Linked DNA regions of Homo sapiens: regions 2 and 3 are each linked to region 1. The links come from fine-mapping of genetic effects on gene expression. A gene starts in region 1. Each other region holds a variant in brackets. All regions are shown on one strand. Distances are between the middles of the regions. Region 1 holds the start of C8orf82 (chromosome 8 open reading frame 82). Region 2 overlaps ARHGAP39 (Rho GTPase activating protein 39). Region 3 overlaps ZNF251 (zinc finger protein 251).

Region 1 (2,757 bases):
AGAGGAAGGGGAAAGCGGCCTCGTAGCGCCCGCTGCGGTTGGGTCTCAGGCGGGAGAAGAAGGTGACCAGGAACTGCGGGTCTGGGGGATGAAGGGTGCGTGTACTCAGCGCGCTGGGCTCCCAAGGCCTCCGGGCCCAGGACCATACCGAGGGCAGGCGCCGACGGTAAGAGGTTCGCCTGGCCTCACTCAGCGGGGCTCCTGAGCGCAGGACGCCCACTCCTTGGTGCGCTGGGCCCGTCGGCAGAGTCGGGGAGCCCATCAGGGGCTGCCCGGAAGGGAGAAAGAAGGGGCTGGAGAGGGAGGCACAGCATTACCTTTGAAGCAGGTGATGAAATTCTTCATTTTGGAATCATCCAGGAAAAGCTGCAGATAGAGGGCCAGGCCGTGATAAGTCCCAGCGTGCAGGTGGGGGCGGGGAAGCTCAGGAGGTCCTGAAGCTCGGGAGGTCCTGAACCGGCCCGAGCCCACTTTTCCTGCTTGTCTGTGCACACCGCATGCAGGGAGGCGCGTGAAAGGTAAACCTGGGGGCCCCGCCGACTTATCCGCGTCTATGCGCACCTCTGCTCCCTGGTCAGCCAATTCTTTCCCGCACCTTTTCCCTCTTTTCAAGTTTGTAATCAGTTGTACCACCTCCTCCGCGGAGACTACCTGGCCTGCTGCCTCCCGGACATGCAGCTGCCTTTTGACAGGGCTTCCAAAAAAAGGCAGGGCGGCCCGGGTGTCTCCCTGGCAGCGGCGAGAAGTCAGCGCCGGGGCTGGGGACTTGTAGGACAGAGTCCGAAGCTGCACAACGCAGCAGGGACGCGGCCCATGTAGGAGCCTCGGCCCGGACCGACCCAACTCCCCGTCTTTCCAGCGCGCTCTCCTCCAGCTCTGAGGAGTCGAGGTTGCCCACCGCGCAGGCCCCGCCCACCCACCCACCCCCTGGAACGTCCCTCCGGCCCCGCCCCTCGAGCAATGGTCCCGCCCACAGAGCCACGCCCCCCCCCCCGCCCCGCCCAGAGACCTCTCCCGGCCCCGCCTCTCGAGCAACGGCCCTGCCCCCGCCCACCTGGCCCTGGTGGTCCACGTAGTAGAAATACTCGCGGGTCCGCGGCTCCGGACTCTGGCCCTGCGTGTAGGAAACGCCCCCATCCCCGCTGCAGGCCCGGGCTCCCCGCGACCGCGCCAAGGCCAGGGTCCGGAGCGTCCCGCAAGGCGGCCACATTCTCCTCCCGCGCCGGAAGCGACCAGCAGGTCACGCCGGGGGCGGTGCTGCGCGAACTCGCGCCTGCCCGCAGTAGCCCCGCGCTTCGCGTTCCGGCGGCGCCCGCCTCCGCGACCCGGGCCCGGCGCTCTTCCCTCTCCCTCGGGCCTCGGGGGCTCGCCCGCCCTGGCCTTCCGAGAGGCGTGTGCCGGTGACGCCCCTTCCGGTCCGCCCCGCGTCTCTTCCCGCCCCCGGCCGCGCCCACAAGGAACGGGAGGACGCGCAGGGTCCATGTGCACTTTATTCACTCGTGTCGTCGCCTCTCGGGTCCATGCGTCGGGGCGAGCGTCTCAGCCGGGCGGGACCGCAAAGGCCCCGGGACCACCCGACTGAGGACGCCGCCCAGGCCTCGGCAGGGCTGGGGCTTTTGTTTTTAATAAATAAAAACGGAACTCTAAAAAATATATATATAAAAACTGGGGAGAAATTAAGTTTTACAACAATTGGAACTCAAAATTCCAAAATGGAAAATGTACAAACTCGGTCCCCCAGCAGCTCTGGCCCCGAGAACGGACAGTCCCGGGCCCGGCGCCTTCCCGCTCGCTCGTCTCCTGCAGGTCTGGGATGGGGATGGGGTAGAGCTTGGTTTTTGGTCAGAAGCCAAGAAAAAAGATCGGAGAAGAAAAGAAGGAATGACCTCAACTTGCTCTGCACGGAGGACGGGGACGGCTCAGAGATAAATAGCATTTAGGTTAAAACTATGTCATTAGCAAATTTAGTTCTTATATCTTTCCCTCTATTTATATCTCTATACACGGTGGGCTGCGATGCAGGATAGATTCTGGATTTACAGTTACACGAAGAAAAAAATACTCTCGCCCCTCCCCCACCCTGCCCCCAGAATGCCTGCCCAGCCCTGCTCCCTACCCCAGAGGACTTTGGTTTGGGGGCCCCCACCCCACCCACCGAGAGCCTGCCAGGCCCCGGGCCCACTGTCCTGGAGCCCCCAAACTCCTGAGCAGTCACCAGCTGGGGACCACGGGCCGAGGGAGGGAGAGGAGGCGGGGACAGGTCGGGAAGCTCTCTCGGGGCTGGGAAGAGCTGCAGGCCAGGACGAGGACAGGAGAAAGGGAAGGAGAGACCGGGGCGGCTGGGCAAGGCCCAGGCCAGGGCGCGCAGGAGCCACAGGGAGGCAGCCCGGCCCCAAGGAGGCAGCGTCGCTCGGCTCCAGGACACAGAAGGCACTTTCTCGGAGCTGACCCGCGGCCAGCGGAGGGCGAGGCGGTGCCCGCGGGAACTGGCCGTGAGGTGGGGGGCCAGAGGCGCCCTCCCCGCCGCTGCTGTGCCCTGGCTGCACCCTCAGACCAGGCAGAAGACGTGGGGAGCGCCGGGGCCAGGGGCCTGGGGGAGTGGAGGGGGCTCCAGGGCTGGGCCGGGCGATTCTGGCCCCTCTGCCGGGAGAGCGAGTGCGGAGTTCGGCCTGGCTGGGGGCGGCAGGACATCCCTCCTGTCCCCGGGCGCCCCCGCTACAGCACACCCTCCATGAAGCTGGTGTCCAGGTGCTGGAT
Region 2 (2,757 bases), 54 kb after region 1:
ATCCCCCAGATCAGCAAGGCCAAGGGCCCAGCTGGCTCTCAGACCCCCGATGGGGGGCAGAGTCTCCACCCGGCCCTCAGACCCCCGCTGGGGGCACAGCCTCCAGCTCAGTAACGTTTCTGAGGCCTCTTCCATGTTTCTACACGGAAACAAAAACCCTTAGAGGCACCAAGAGCCTCTCAGCAAAGATGCTGCCAGGAGGCGTTCCCATGGACCCATGCATCCGTCTCTTAACCCTGCGACAGGCCTGGTCCTCGCCATCACCGGGCTGGTGAGGTGTCTCGTTAGCCCTGCGACAGGCCTGGTCCTCGCCATCACCGGGCTGGTGAGGGGTCTCGTTTCCAGGGAAAATGCACTAATCCCAGGGGCTCAACAGAAGGGGAGGCAAGTGGTGAGGGCAGAAGGGCCAGCGGACACCAGGCCCAGACACGGGCTAGTGGGGGCTGCCTGCGGCTCCCCCAGGTCAAGGACAGAAAGAGCCCCCCTGGCGGCCGGCGCAGACTGGCTGCGGGGGCGACCTTCATCCCACGTCCCACCCTTTGAAACCAGGCCAGGGACACGGCGGCTCTGAAAACAGGCTGTGATGCGCACCACACCTGCTCGTAGGACACCAAGGATCCAGGCGGAGTCTGTCCCCGCCACCCCCAGAGGCCAGCTGGGGAAGCCGGGCCCTCACACAGTGGCGGCGGCCCCAGCAGCAGCCCTGGGGGTTCTGGGTCTGTTTCTTGCTGATGCAGATGAGCAGCTGAGAAACAGGCCTTGCCACCCAAGCCCTCCTTCAGGCCCTGGCCACTGGGCACTGTTTGCTCCTCTGTGTTTGGATGCCACAGGCAGAAGGCACCGAGGGACAGTCCACGTGGGGCCATGAGGTGGGCGTGCTCAGGGCCTTACGTGGGGAAGGAGCTGGCTCAGGGGTCTGGCTGCAGGAGGAGGATGAGGCGGGTGGGACTGGGCCTGAGTGCAGACACCACAGTGGTGCACTCAGAAGTCCAATGAAGGAGGGCCAGTGAGAGAAGGGGCACCCTGGGGATGGGCTGGTGGTGGAGGGCTGCAGGGGAAGGCAGATGAGAACTCCTGAGGCCCGCCTGTGGATGTTTCACCGTCATCCCCGTGGGAAGGCGAGGTGGTGGGGGTCCTGTTGTTTTGCTCAGCTTGAGTACATCTGCCAACAACTCCCCCCAAACAAATGCCTCGGCTTGCTCGGCTCAGACCCTCCACAGGCCCCAGACTCTGAACTTCCACCTGCATGTCTCGCCACACCCTTGGCGTACACACCCACTCCACCGTCCACCGTCCAGCAAACCACACGCAACAGGGGCCAC[C/T]CCCGCTCTGGTCCGTGCTTTCCCTTCTCAGCCCGGGGTCTCGCCAGGCACCAATAGCTGCCCAGCCCCTCCCTCCCAGCCCACAGTGGGTCCCCCAGTCGCTCCTGACGAACAAATCTAGGCAGCACCTTTCAGTCCCGAGGGAGCTGTGCCACTTTTGATACCACTGATCATGTTCTCTTCCTTTTATTTTTAAAGTTTTAACTTTTTGTTTTATAATTTCATATTTTCAAAAAGGTTAACAGCCTTCACCCAGATTCACCGCGTGTCACCTCCCTGAAACCGCAACAGGAAGTGGCGCACGCATTGTGGGGTGAGCAGCTCAGGAGACAACTGCTCGGCACGTGGAGGCACAGACGGGGTCTGCCCACGGCCCGGGCGGGACTGGGTGCCCACTAAGGTTCCCCACCGTAGCATCCTGTGCCGTCTCCCCAGCTACGAGGATCTCGTGGGGATCCCGTAAGGCCCCTGACATCCTGTTTCTCCTCCACTTTAACCCACGACTTTGAGCACCATGGATGCTTCCTGCCTGCGTGCTCCACTGAGCTGGCCAGCACACCGTCACCCTTGCTGGCTGGAATTCTATTCTGAGAGTCACACGATCAAGAATTTGTCATGTTGGCGGTGCTGTTGTGGGGGTGGCAGGTTACAGAGGTTTCTATTTTTCTGTATTTTCCAAGTGTTCCACAATATTCACAAGATTACTACTGTCATTGGAAAAAAAACCCACATATTATCTTCCTATAAAATGGTGCATATTCCATGTATGACATGCAATGAATCTTTCCAAGTGTCCAGTTTTAAAGTGTTAAGGATTTAGTGGGCAATGTTTCCCTGAAGCATCTGCACTCTTATATTGGCCTGTCCAGCACATCACTCAAGGGGATAAACGGTATCTCCCCGCAGGGGTGTTTTAATTCAAATGCAAACTTAATGACAAGGAAGGACTGTCACAGTTTATAATGAGATAAAGTTATATAGCTTTATTTTTAAAAGTGGCATATGTGTTTACATGTATATAGTTGTCTAGAAAATTACTGGAAGTCTAAAGCCAAATATTAAAAGAGATTAACTGGCCAAGTGCGGTGGCTCATGCCTGTAATCCCAGCAATTTGGGAAGCCAAGGCAGGCGGATCACTTGAGCTCAGGAGTTTGAGACCAGCCTGGGCAACGTGGTGAAACCCCATCTCTACAAAAAACACAAAAATTAGCCGGGCATGGTGGGTGCACTTCAGTTGCTTTTCACACTGAAGTCATTAATCTGCCTGCACTGATTTTTGTTTACTGTGTGAAATTTCATTTTCCCATATGGATAGAAAGGGATCTTAGGATAGCTTGTTAAATAGCTTTGTTTCCTCAGTGATGGACAATGGGAGCTCTATCTTAAATTGAGTTTCTGGCCAGGTGCGGTGGCTCAGGCCTGTAATCCCAGCAC
Region 3 (2,757 bases), 190 kb after region 1:
TAAAACCATGGATACCACTACATCTCCACTAAAATAGCTAGAATATTAAAAAATGGACAATACTGCTGGGCACGTTGGCTTATGCCTGTAATCCCAGCGCTTTGGGAGGCTGAGGTGGGTGGATCACCTGAGGTCGGGAGTTGGAGACCAGCCTGACCAACATAGAGAAACCCCGTCTCTACTAAAAATACAAAATTAGCCGGGCGTGGTGGTGCATGCCTCTAATCCCAGCTTCTCAGGAGGCTGAGGCAGGAGAACCGTTTGAATTGAACCCGGGAGGCGGAGGTTGTGGTGAGCCGTGATCGCGCCATTGCACTCCAGCCTGGGCAACAAGAGCAAAACTCCGCCTCGGAAAAAAAAAAAAAAAAAAAAGGACAATACCAAGATCTGGTGAGGATTCAAAGCAACTAAACTCACACATCATCAGTGGGGATATACAACTGACTTTGTAAAAGTTTGGCAGTTTCTTAAAATGTTAAACATAAGCTTACCATATGACCCAGCAATCCCACTCCTATTTACCCAAGATAACTGAAAAGTTAGATTCACAAAACAGCCTGTAGTTGATACACAGTGATGGCAGCTTTAATCATAGTTGCCCATACTGAAAATGCCCAAATACCCTGCCATGGGTGAACGGATAAACAAATGGCTCCATCCATACAATGGAATGCTACTCGGTGCAAAAAAGCACTCTACACAGGCAATATGGATGACTCCAATGCATCATGTTCAGTAAAAGCAGCCACGTGCAAACAGCTGCACACTATTTCTGGAAATGGTGAGGTGATGGATAGAGGATAGAAAACAAACCAGTGGTTTCCACGGACTGGGGTTGAGGAGGGGTTAACCACAAGAGAGCACAAAGGAATTCTGGGTGGTGGTGAAGATGTTCAATGTCTGGAATGTGGTAGTGGCACAATTGTATGTTTTTGTCAAAGCCCAAAGAACTATACACTAAAAAGAGTAAATTTTATTGTTTATAAATTATGCTTCAATAAACCTGCCTTTAAAAAATTTTTTATCAGTAATTACAATTTTCAAAAGTGGAGATACTTGGTAGGCCCCTGCTTTCTTGGCCCCTAAGGTCCCTCTCTCTGTTAAACTGTAGAGCTCCTTAGAACCAAAACCAAACCACCTTTCATTTTAATGAAAATGAAATGCAAAAACTGGGGCTCCAAGCAAGGAAGAAACGTCTACCTGCAGTTCATCTGGGGGTTGGTGGGAGAGGTGGTGGAGAGAGTAAGGCTAAGCGCCCCCAGCAGGCCCAAGTTCTCTGTACCACACTTGGAGGCAGGTATATGGGACTGAAAGTGGATGTTCTCAGCCACAAGCCTGGGCCTGGATAGGAAACAAAGGATAAGACTGGAAGGATGTCAGGTAGGGTAGACCCAGAGCACCAGCTGGGCTCACTTTTCACGCCCTCCATCCATTCGTCATGAGTATCCGGATACAGCACCACA[C/T]GGTTCAACTCCTGAGCACAGCAGTAACCTTTACACAGACAGCCTGATTTCCCAGAATGAATTCTCGTGTTTACTTCCAGATTTAATGACTTTGACTTTAGTAGTCATCTGAACTATTTATTTTACTTTGCCAGTAATATTTAGACCTTATATATCTTTCATTATGCCATCTTATCTTCTAATGTCAAGTGAACAGTTGCTAAACTGTCTTCTGCATTTATCACATTAAAAATGTCTTTCTTGGAAAATCTTCTTGATATGAATAAAGTATCTTTTAGAGCCATCATTTAAAGCAGGTTTCTCTCCAACACGAGTCTGCTGAGGTGGTGTGAGCTGTGAACTCTGGCTGAAGGCTTTCCCATACACACTGCAATGACATGGTTTCTGACCAGTGTGAGTTACCTGATGTTGAATAAGGGTTGACTTTCCACTGAAGGCGTTTCCACATTCTTGACATTTATAGGGCTTTTCCCCAGCATGCATTATCTGATCTTCAGTGGGTCGTGAGGTGGGACTGAAAGCTTTTCCATATTCATTACATCCAAAGGATTTCTCACCAGTGTGAACTGTCCAGCGCAGAATGAGATTTGCACCATGGTTAAAGGCTCTGCCGTGCTTCTCTCCAGTGGGAATCTGTCCATCTGCTGTGAGGCTGGAGCCATGAACAAAGGCTGGACCATGTTTTCTGCACTTACGAGTCTCTCCGCTGTGAACTTTCTGATGCTGAATGAGGGTTGACCTCCGGCTGAAGGCCTTCCCACAGTCACCACAGTCATAGGGCTTCTCTCCAGTGTGAACTCGCTGATGTAGGGTGAGCTGGGAGCTCTGGCTGAAAGCTTTCCCACATTCAACGCACTGGTAGGGCTTCTCCCCAGTGTGAACTCTTCGATGCTGAACAAGAGTGGAACTCCGACGAAAGGCTTTGCCGCACTCATTACAAACATAGGGTTTTTCTCCTGTGTGAATCCTTACGTGTTCAGTAAGATGAGAGTTAAAACCAAAGGCTCTGCCGCATTCATTACATACATAGGGTTTCTCTCCAGTATGAACCCGATGATGGAGGAAAAGGCTTGAGCTCTGACTGAAGGCCTTCCCACACTGATTGCATTTATGGGGCTTCTCTCCAGTGTGAATTCTCTCATGCTGAATAAGGCTGGAGCTTCGACTGAAGGCCTTCCCACAGTGACTGCATTCATGCGGCTTCTCTCCAGTGTGAATTCTCTGATGCTGAGTTAACTGGGGGCTCTGGCTAAAGCCTCTTCCACATTCATTACACTTGTAGGGTTTCTCTCCT

The links.
Region 2: its variant is fine-mapped to the expression of C8orf82 in whole blood (INTERVAL, PIP 0.96).
Region 3: its variant is fine-mapped to the expression of C8orf82 in whole blood (TOPMed, PIP above 0.99).

Annotation. Positions count from the first base shown.
Region 1 is chr8:144,527,707-144,530,463 of GRCh38, forward strand. It overlaps C8orf82 (chromosome 8 open reading frame 82), which reads right to left and starts at 1,405. Exons shown (of 3, transcript NM_001001795.2): 1 at 1,055-1,405; 2 at 318-366; 3 at 1-81. The coding sequence starts at 1,210. ARHGAP39 (Rho GTPase activating protein 39) reads right to left here. Exons shown (of 12, transcript NM_025251.3): 12 at 1,473-2,757. The coding sequence ends at 2,716. RefSeq lists an enhancer at 54-910 and silencers at 639-933, 891-940, 951-1,540, 2,272-2,371.
Region 2 is chr8:144,581,761-144,584,517 of GRCh38, forward strand. The region is part of intron 2 of ARHGAP39 (Rho GTPase activating protein 39); the gene reads right to left. Among named protein-coding and RNA genes, the nearest start is that of C8orf82, 54 kb to the left of the region's middle. The variant C/T (reference allele first, on the strand shown) is at 1,323.
Region 3 is chr8:144,719,956-144,722,712 of GRCh38, forward strand. It overlaps ZNF251 (zinc finger protein 251), which reads right to left. Exons shown (of 5, transcript NM_138367.2): 5 at 954-2,757. The coding sequence ends at 1,689. Among named protein-coding and RNA genes, the nearest start is that of ZNF251, 34 kb to the right of the region's middle. The variant C/T (reference allele first, on the strand shown) is at 1,464.